Regions from separate parts of the Homo sapiens genome. Here region 2 is linked to region 1. The links come from fine-mapping of genetic effects on gene expression. A gene starts in region 1. The other region holds a variant in brackets. All regions are shown on one strand. Distances are from middle to middle. Region 1 holds the start of MCM5 (minichromosome maintenance complex component 5). Region 2 has its middle 22 kb from the start of HMOX1.

Region 1 (5,370 bases):
CACCATTCCTCTTCCCAAACACACATCTAATTCCAGATCATTCCATTATTTAACCCTGCAGAGGCTACTCACTGCTGGCACAGGCATGCCCTAAAGAAAGCTCCATGGAAGGGGTCCACAAGACAGTCAAAGGATGTTTCAACACCCAGGCCAGCGTGCACAAAACAACAAACCAGTTCTGTCACTGAAGGACTCCGCAGAGCCTTTAACTTCTCTTGGAAAAGAACAATGCACACAGCTCAAACTTGGGGCCCAGTGAGGTGGCTCATGCCTGTAATCCCAACACTTTAGGAAGCTGAGGAGGGTGGATTACTTGAGGCCAGGAGTTCAACACCAGCCTGGGCCACATGGCAACACCCAGTCTCTACTAAAAATACGAAGATTAGCCGGGCATGGTAGCATACGCCTGTAGTCCCAGCTACTGAGGCATGAGAATGCCTGAACCCCAGAGGTGGAGGCTGCAGTGACCAGAGATCTCGCCAGGGCACTCCAGCCTGGGCGACAGACTGAGACTCTGTCTCAAAAAAAAAAACCAAAAAGGTACCAGCCTCACCAACATGGAGAAACCCCATCTCTACTAAAAATACAAAAAAAAAAACCTAGCCGGGTGTGGTGGCGGATGCCTGTAATCCTAGCTACTTGGGGGACTGAGGCAGGAGAATCACTTGAACCCGGCAGGCAGCAGTTGCAGTGAGCCAAGATCACGCCACTGTACTCAAACCTGGGTGACAGAGCGAGACTCCATCTCAAAAAAAAAAAAACAAAAAACAAAACAACAAAAAAACTGGAGGCACCAAGGCAGCAGAAAACACATCTGCCTTATCAACCTCTAGTCAGACTGTTTTTTTTTAAATAGAGCCTGGGTTTCACTATGTTGCCCAGCCAGGTCTTGAACTCCTGGGGTCAAATGATCCATTGGCATCAGCCTCCCAAAGCGTCGGAATTACAAGCATGAGCCACTGCGTCCAGCCCAGATGCTTAGCAGAGCATCCCATGTGACTGCTGTGGCAAGAACATATTTGGGGACCACTGACCAACGCACAGGCTGTTCCCCAGCCTCGCAGTATCACAGGCCTGAGCCCCGTCTCCCTTATGTCCAGGAGCCAGTAAAATGGCCAGACTGCTACTGAAAGCCACTTGCTGTGAGGACACCCCACACCTCTACACAAGCAATTGCTCCTACCTAGACAGAAAGCTTTCTACACCTGCAACTCTGACCTTAGCTCAAAGGTCCCCTCAAACTTCAGCCCCCCGGAAAACTTCCCTAAGTCCTTTCACCTTCCTCTGTGGAGGAAATGACCACCGTGGAAGTTATCTGTTGGTCTTCACGACTCACTCCTCTGACTTAGGAGCTTCTCTAGGACAAGAAGCACGTCTTTTCATCTTTGTAGCGCAGTGCCTGGCACACAGGTGGGCAATATCAGCTGCTGCATGAGTAAGTGAAAGCAGGAATGGCTTTACCCATTTCTGGCCTGGTGAGGCCCAGAGACACTGACACCTGGAAGTCACTCAGCTAATAATGGGCCAGTGCTGAACCTGCAACCTCATGTTCTCTGCATTTTAACATTTCAGGGATAGAGGCCGGGCCTATGAGAATTCTCATGATGTCACAGGTCGTACAATCACCTAGAAGCAGGAGCCAGGTCCAGCTTCAGTGCTGCAGCCCAGCACCCAGAACAGTATCTGGCAGGCAGCAGGTGCTCAATCAATGAAGGTGCAAGACTGGTATAAATAAATGAATGAGCGAAGTGAAGTGAATCCTAACTGCCATCTTCACCTTTTACACCTACAGGGAACTTGAGTTTGTAAGGTCTCAGACATGACATGGAAGGATGATAGGAAGCAGATGAACAGGAACAAGATCTGGATAAAGAACTAAACGGTCCAAGTGGCGCTAGCTGGTTGCTGGTGGCCCACTCAACAGGTGACTCACCCAGAAGTTAACTCCAGGTACAGATAAAATACACAAAGCAGGCCGGGCACGGTGGCTCACGCCTGTAATCCCAGCACTTTGGGAGACTGAGGCGGGTGGATCACTTGAGGTCAGGAGTTCGAGAGCAGCCTGGCGAACATGGCGAAACCCCATCTCTACTAAAATTACAAAAAATTATCCGGGCGTGGTGATGGCGGGGGTAGTCCCACCTACTCGGGAGGCTGAGGCACAAGAATCGCTTGAACCCGGGAAGCGGAGGTTGCAGTGAGCCGAGATCGTGCCACTGCACTCCAGCCTGGCGACAGAGCGAGACTCCGTCTCAAAATAATAAACAAATACGTTAATAATAAAATAAAATAAAATAAAGTAAAACAAAATACACAAAGCCTTATACCAAGGCGTGAGGCTGCCGGGATGAGCCCTGTGACCCAGGACCGGCTCTTTCCCCCGTCTGGGCCCATCTGTGCCCTGACTGTCCAGGACTCTAGCAGGCTGGTAGAGGCGTGTGAGCGGCCACACTGGAACTCGAGCCCCCGGCCCCGCAGGAGCCGCACCTGTATTTGAAGGTGAAGCCCGTGCGGTCGGTGCCCACTCGGTACTGCCGCAGGAACTCCTTGAAGCGCCTCTGCAGCTGCGATTTGCGGGCCTGCCCCTCGTCGGCCTGGGCGTCGCCCCCGAAGCTGTCGCTGTAGAAAATGCCAGGATCGTCGAATCCCGACATGACTGCGCCTGGGGTGGGAACAAACGGCCAGAACAGGCTGGGGGCAGCGCCTGGCACCTCCTCCCCTCCGACGCCTGGGTCCCTGCCCTGAGTCCGGAGCAGGGGGACCCCCGGCCGCGCTCCCGGACTCCAACCCCAGTTCCCGAGAAACTCCTGTCCCACTCCAACTACACCCGGAAATCCAGATGCCTGCTGGCTCCCAGTCCCAGTCCCACTCCCACTAGCCTCACCTCTGGTTTTCCGCACTTCACAAACCAGGGGAGACAAGAACCTCCACGCTCAGCCGCCGAGTTTCGCGGGAAAAACAAGAGGCGGTGTTCGGACGCCGCAGCCGCTGCGCTCCCATTGGTTCGCCGGAGCCTCGCGGCCAGCGATTGGACCGTTCTGAGCCCTCCAGCCCCGCCGCCCGGACTGTCTGCCGAAGATGATTGGCTGCAAAGTGCATGACCTCGCCTCCTTCCGGGCTCCATTTTGTGTGCGGAACAATTTGGCGCGAAACTTCTGGCTGGGAAGGAAGTGGCGGCGCAGGACGGGGCGGACGCAAAGATGGCGGAGGGGCGGGCGCGCGGAGGACGCCTTTAGGTGGTTTCTTTTTTATTTTCTTGGTTTTTTTTTTTTTTTCCTGACGCATGGTCTCGTTGTGTTGCCGGGGATGGAGTGCAGTGGCTGGATCACGGCTTACTGTAGCCTCAACCTCTTGGGCTCAAGCAATCCTTCCGCCTCAGCCTCCCTTGTAGCGGGGACCACAGGTGTACGTGATTTTCTTAAAATATTTCATAAAGACGGAGTCTCACCATCTTGCCCAGGTCTCGAAACTCTACTCTCAAGCGACCCGCCTGCCTTGACGTCCCAAAGCACTGGGATTACTGGCGTGAGCTACCCGGCCAGGCCTGCGTGCTTTTCTTAAGCCTTCTTTTAAAGTCCTATGAAAAAAAATGACCCTTTTCATAGCCATAGGGAGAAAAAACTAGAAGTTCAGAAATGATTGGGTCCAGGTGCCCATTTTGCATTGGGAGACTGTGCCCTGTGGAGTATTCGCTTCCCGGTCGTGGGGCCCGTTCTCTGGGCCTGAGGCTCTGAGGAGCCCCTGTCCTCCAGCTGGTGGCAGGACAGGGCGATTACCGCGCGGCTCACCCGCGTCCCCGACCCGGGTTCTCGCACCCTAACACACTGCTTTTATTTGTTTATTTATTTGTTGAGAGGGAGTCTCACTCTGTCCCCCAGGATGGAGTGCAGTGGCTCAATCTCGGCTCACTGCAACTTCTGCCTCCCCGGTTCAAGCGATTCTCCTGCCTCAGCCTCCCAACTAGCTGGGACTACAGGCAGGCGCCACCATGCTCAGCTAATTTTTGTATTTTTAGTGGAGACAGGGTTTCACCATGTTGCCCACACTGGTCTCGAACTTCTGGCCTCAAGTGATCCACTCGCTTCGGCCTCCCAAAGTGCTGGAATTACAGGCGTGAGCCACCATGCCCAGACCGGCCTCATTCTGTTTAACAGCTGCTTAATTTTCTGTAGTATGGTGACAAAGACTCTCCTTGACCAAACTCTAGCCAGGTTCCTCTGGGCTCCCTTCACTTCTAAGCCTCAACCTTGATCTATAGGCACTGTGGCTCATGCCTGTAATCCTAGCACTTCAGGAGACCAAGATGAGAGGATCCCTTGAGTCCAGGAGTTGAGGCCAGCCTGGGCAACATAGCAAGATCCCGCTTCTCTAGAAATTTTTTTATAATTTTTTTTGTTTTGAGACAGAGTCTCACTCTGTTGCCCAGGCTGGAGTGCAGTGTCACGATCTCGGCTCACTGCAACTTCCACCTCCTGGGTTCAAGCAATTCTCCTGCCTCAGCTTCCCAAGTAGCTGGAATTACAGGTGTGTGCCACCACGCCTGGCTAATTTTTTGTATTTTTAGTAGAGACAGGGTTTCACCATGTTGGCCAGCCTTGAACTCCTGACCTCAGGTGATCCACCCGCCTGAGCCTTCCAAGATGCTGGGATTACAGGCATGAGCCACTGCGCCCGGCTTGAAATTTTTTTTTAATTAGCTGGGCATGGTGGAGCACACCTGTTGTCCTAGCTACTCAAGAGGCCAAGGTGGGAGGATGGCCTGAGCCCAGGAGTTTGAGACTGCAGTGAGTTTTGATTGCACCACTGCACTTCAGCCTGAGCGACAGAGCGAGACTCATCTCTAAAAAGAAAAAAAAGACAGTCCAGGCGCCGTGGCTCACACCTGTAATCCCAGCATTTTGGGAGGCTGAGGCGGGAGTTCAAGACCAGCCTGGCCAACATGGTGAAACCCTGTGTCTACTAAAAATACAAAACTTAGCCGGGCGTGGTGGCAGGCGCTTGTAATCCCAGCTACTTGGAAGCCTGAGGCAGGAGAATCGCTTGAACCTGGGAGGCGGAGGTTGCAGTGAGCCGAGATCGTGCCACTACACTCCAGTCTGGGCGACAAGAGTGAAACTTAATCTCAAAAAAAAAAAAAAAGAAAAGAAAAAAAGACTTAAACAAACACTAACAGTTTCTAACAGCTGCTAACATCTCTAAAATGACTCTAGCCAGCCCCCGCTAAGGTGCCTGCCTGAGAAAACTCAAGGCTGCTGGTAAATGTTTACCGTTTATTCCAGGCAACAACCGAGGATGTGACCTCTGTCTCCCAGGCTCTGTGGGAGGCAAAAATTCTAACTTTGATCATTGCCAACTGGCAGACACAGCTAG
Region 2 (5,370 bases), 41 kb after region 1:
TGAGTCCTGTGCTCCTCAGAGAGGCCTGGGATATCCATGTCTTTCCTCCTTTGTGGGGCTTGGCTCAAGTTCAAGCTCTGGGCCTGTCCCTCTCTTCCCCACCTCCACTACCTCACTCTGCCCATTCACTTTGGGGAACAGGGAAGGAGGCAGGTAGCAGAGCCAGGGCACTTTTATTTGTCAATAATTGTAAGTATAACTTTTTTTTTTTTTTTGAAATGGAGTCTCGCTCTGTCACCCAGGTTGGAGTGCAGTGGCGCAATCTCAGTTCACAGTAGCCTCTGCCTCGGGGGTTCATGTGATTCTCCTACCTCAGCCTCCTGAGTAGCTGGGATTACAGGTGCCCGCCATCACGCCCAGCTAATTTTTGTATTTTTAGTAGAGACAGAGTTTCACCATGTTGGCCAGGGTGATCTCCAACTCCTGCACTCAGAGGATCTGCCCACCTCAGCCTCCCAAAGTGCCGGGATCTAAAAATACAAAAATTAGCCAAGTGTGATGGCATGCACCTGTAGTCCCAACTACTTGGGAGGCTGAGGCAGGAGAATCACTTGAACCTGGGAGGCAGAGGTTGCAGAGAGCCAAGATTATGCTATTACACTCCAGCGTGGGTGACAGAGTGAGACTCCGTCTCAAAAAAAAAAAAAAAAAACCCCAAGAAACACAAAAAACAAAAAATTGGCTCTTGACCATCATGAGGGCCACCTGTGACAGTGTCTGTGGACCCACTGTGTCACCTGTCCAATGCTGGGAAGTGTTTGCTTCTCAAGGGCTCCCCAGCAGGCAGCTGTGAGAAAGGATCTCTATGAGGGTCCAAGGTCCTCTCTGAAGAAATTCCAGAATGTGCCCTGGACTTCTGGCGAGGCGGCATCCCCTGGGAAGGTGGCATGGGGGCGTGGTGGAAAGCCCCTGGCCTTTGGCATCAGACGGAGCTGGGTGCTGGACTCTGTACTTAACCCATATTGTGACCTCTTCACCCTGCAAAATCTCCATTTCTTTATCAGGAAAATGGGACTAATAATCCCGGCTTACCAGGGCCAGCTGAGATCAGGGGTGTAGGAGCTTCGTGTACCCAGTGTGTGGTACACAACAGGTGTTCAGCTGGGGACTCTTCTTCTCTTTTCAAGGAGAGGGCTGACTCTTGCTGAAAAATCAGTAACCACAGCTGGGCATGGTGGCTCATGCCTGAAATCCCAGCTATTTCTTGGGAGGCTGAGGCAGGAGGATTGTTTGAGGTCAGGAGTTGGAGACCAGCCTGGACAACAAAGCAAGACCCCTGTCTCGAAAAATGAATAATAATTGGGTGGGAGGGGATTGAGGGATGAGGAATTACCTACAGGGTACAATTTACGTTATTTGGGTGAAGGTTAAACTAAAAGCCCAGGCAATATATCCATGTAACAAAAATGCACTTGTGGCCGGGCGCGATGGCTCATGCCTGTAATCCCAGCACTTTGGGAGGTCGAGGCAGGCGGATCACCTGAGGTCAGGAGTGTAAGACTAGCCTGACCAACGTGGCAAAACCCCATCTCTACTAAAAATACAAAAATTAGCAGGGCGTGATGGCAGGTGCCTGTCGTCCCAGCTACTCAGGAGGCTGAGGCAGGAGAATTGCTTGAACCTGGGAGGCAGAGGCTGCAGTGAGGCGAGATTGTGCCACTGCACTCCAGCCTGGGTGACAGCGTGAGACTCTGTCTCAAGGAAAAAAAAAAAAAAGAAATGTTCAGTTTTTTAAACATTGACAATAGACTCAGTTAAAAAAAGAAAAAAAGAGCTGGGCACGGTGGCTCACGGCTGTAATCCCAGCACTTTGGGAGGCTGAGGGGGGCAGATCACGAGGTCAGATGATCGAGACCAGCCTGGCTAACACGGTGAAACCCCGTCTCTACTAAAAATACAAAAAACTAGCCAGGCGTGGTGGTGGGCGCCTGTAGTCTCAGCTACTCGGGAGGCTGAGGCAGGAGAATGGCGTGAACGCGGGAGGCAGAGCTTGCAGTGAGCGGAGATCAGGCCACTGCACTCCAGCCTGGGTGACAGAGCGAGACTCTGTCTCAAAACAAAACAAAACAAAACAAAAAAAACAAAAAACAACAACCACCCTCCACAAGACCTGACATGGCCCTGGGGCCACCACTTTGACTGCTCTGGGTTAGCTGGGTTCTCCGATCCCAGATTGCTTGGTTCCTCTGCAATTCCCGGGGCAGAGTGAGCCTCAGAGATGAGAATTCCTGCCTCCTCTTCCTGGACACATGATCACCGGTGTCAGTGGACATTCCCAGGTCACAGGCTCCCCACACACATTCTGTTCATGCCAAGAGCTCAGGGACCAGTGTCATCCTGTGCTGTGGACATTCCTAGGTCACAGGCTCCCCACACACATTCTGTTCATGCCAAGAGCTCAGGGACCAGTGTCATCCTGTGCTGTGGTCATTCC[CA/A]CCTAAATGAGGGCATCTGGGGACACAGGACATCAGGGACCAGTCCTCAGGAGTTTCACAGCTGGGCTGGGGTTCATGGAGACTGGAGTCTGGCAGGTTTCCACTACCTCCCTACCTACCTACCTATCTATCCAACTAACTAACCCCTTTTCCCCTGACTATTCCCTGTGGCTGGGAGGACAAGGGCTATGACTCATTTCTCGCTACGTACATCCTCAGAGCCTAGCACACAGTAGGCCCCTAGCAAGCGAGGATGACCGCGGCTACAGCCTCTACAGAGAAAAGAGGCAGGATTTGAAGCTCTAAAAATGGAGCCCAAATTTCTGAGCTTGGGAGATGAGGCTGAACCAAAGCAAATCGGGATCAAAGGAGAGAGTGGGCCTAAGTGTTTGCCTTAACTGCCAATCAGATTTTTAAAAAAGTAACCTGCTCAAAACCACACAGCTGGTAAGTTGTGAAGCCTGAGAGATGGTGCTTGTGTGTGTGTGGTTTTTTAAATTAATTGTAGTAAAATATACATAACATTTACCATTTTGATCACTTCTTTTTTTTTTGAGACGGAGTTTCGCTCTTGTCACCCAGGCTGGAGTGCAATGGCATGATCTCAGCTCACTGCAACCTCCACCTCCCGGGTTCAAGTGATTCTCCTGCCTCAGCCTCCTGAGTAGCTGGGACTACAGGCACGCACCACCATGACCAGCTAATTTTTTGTATTTTTAGTAGAGACAGTGTTTCGCCATGTTGGCCAGGCTGGTCTCAAACTCCTGACCTCAGGTGACCCACCTGCCTCAGCCTCCCAAAGTGCTGGGATTACAGGAGTAAGCTATCACGCCTGGCCCATTTTGACCACTTCTAAGTGTAAAGTTCAGTGGCATTAAGTACATTCCCACTGTACAACCATCACCACCATCCATCTCCAGAACTTTTCCATCATCCCAGACTAAACCTCTGTACCCATTAAACAATATGCCAACTAGATTTTATAGCTTAATTTATGGATCAGTGTCGGGGGGCTGGCCAGGTGAGATGGCTCCTATTGAAGGTGGTGAGTGCCCTGTCACTGGAGGTATGCAAGCATGGGATACGGGTTGGCTGAAACAGCACCATCAGTCTGACTCTACGTGAGTCTTTATGAGGTTTTTGTTGGAGGGGGAGACAAAAAGCCTTACATATTGCTAACTAAGCTGGGAGGTTTTCCTGTGTATTTTTTTTTTTTTTTAGTATGTGTGTGTCCCAGAGGTCATGATATGACTGGCAGTTACCTGTATCAAAAACAAACTGTCCAATAGTGAGGCTTCATCATACATCACACAACCTCCCATCTTGTCAGGCCAGTCTGAGACCAGTGCCCAGGCAGGGCAACTTCCTTCTCACTCGTGCTCCTGCCATCACCTTCCAGAAACGTCTACGAGCCCCCTTCCTCCTCTGCAAGTGAGGTTGGGTTGGGGAGTGCAGTGTATGGCAATGTGGTGGACACTGTTGATTGTCTACTCAACAGCCATCTCCTCTTCCCCTAGGTAACAGAACCCCAATTTGTTTGGGATCCAGATGGAATCATAGATTTAGGGAGGGTGTGCCCAGTGCCAGAGGTGAGTCATGGTTACTCTGAGGCAGAGATTCTAAGCCATCCTGTGGTCATCCCATTCCTCTTTGCCAGCGTAATTGTGCAGGTGGATTCCATTGTGCCGGATGAATGACCAGTCAGGAAGTTAGAGTAGCTTGTCTGAGGAGGTGACACAGTAGCTGAGCCCTGAAGGATGAATGAGTTAAGTCAGGTGGCCTGTTTTAGAGGAAATAGCACATACAAAGGCCCTGTGGTCAGGGCATGAAACTTTTTTTTTTTTTTTTTGAGATGGAGTCTCACTCTGTCGCCCAGGCTGGAGTACAGTGGTGCGATCTCAGCTCAGTGCAACATCCACCTCCCAGGTTCAAGTGATTCTCCTGCCTCAGCCTCCCGAGTAGCTGGGATTACAGGCATGCACTACCACGCCCTACTAATTTTTGTATTTTTAATAGAGATAGGATTTTACCATGTTGGCCAGGCTGGTCTCGATCTCCTGACCTCGTGATCCACATGCCTCAGGCTCCCAAAATGCTGGAATTACAGGCGTGAGCCACTGTGCCCAGCCCAGCATGAAACTTTTGAGGTGGGAAAGACAGCCTGTCTGGAGTGCAGAGAACCTGAAGAATGTGGCAGGGGACAGACTCCAGGGGCCCTGGAGGCCAGGCCAGGAGGTGGGTCTTTAGCCTGAGAGCAAGTGAAAGGTTTTAGGTGTGTGTGTTGGGTTTTGGGGGTGTGGGTATTGTAAAACATGGTCGGATTTGCCCTTTGAAATATATTTTCGGCTGGGTGCAGTGGCTCATGCCTGTAATTCCAGCACTTCGGGAGGCTGAGGTGGGAGGACCACTTGAACCCAGGAGTTGGAGACCAGCCTGGGCAACACAGTGAGACCCCATCTCTGCAAAAATATTTTTTAAAAAAATGACAGCTGGGCGTGGTGGGTCACGCCTGTAATCCCAACACTTTGGGAGGCCGAGGCAGGTGGATCACCTGAGGTCAGGACTTCGAGACCATCCTGACCTCAATATGGTGAAACCCTGTCTCTACTAAAAATACAAAAATTAGCTGGGTGTGGTGGCACGCGCCTGTAGTCCCAGCTACTCGGGAGGCTGAGACAGGAGAACTGCTTGAACCCGGGAAGTGGAGGTTGCAGTGAGCCGAGATCACACCACTGCACTCCAGCCTGGGTGACAGAGCAAGACTCCCTCTAAAAAAATAATAATAAATAAAATAAATAAATAAAAATAAAAATTAGCTGGGCGTGGTGGTATGTGCCTGTAGTCCTAGGTACTCAGGAGGCTGGGTGGGAGGACCGCTTGAGCAGGGGGTAGGGGAGAGGGGACGGGGGAAGCCGAGGTTGCAGTGAGCTGCAAT

What was found. PIP is the estimated chance that this variant, and not a neighbour inherited with it, causes the effect.
Region 2: its variant is the best candidate, but not a certain one, in a credible set for the expression of MCM5 in whole blood (INTERVAL, PIP 0.72).

The regions. Positions count from the first base shown.
Region 1 is chr22:35,397,723-35,403,092 of GRCh38, reverse strand. It overlaps MCM5 (minichromosome maintenance complex component 5), which reads right to left and starts at 2,953. Exons shown (of 17, transcript NM_006739.4): 1 at 2,885-2,953; 2 at 2,488-2,662. The coding sequence starts at 2,654. RefSeq lists enhancers at 3,189-3,348, 3,359-3,408.
Region 2 is chr22:35,356,842-35,362,211 of GRCh38, reverse strand. No RefSeq gene overlaps it. Among named protein-coding and RNA genes, the nearest start is that of HMOX1, 22 kb to the left of the region's middle. The variant CA/A (reference allele first, on the strand shown) is at 2,435.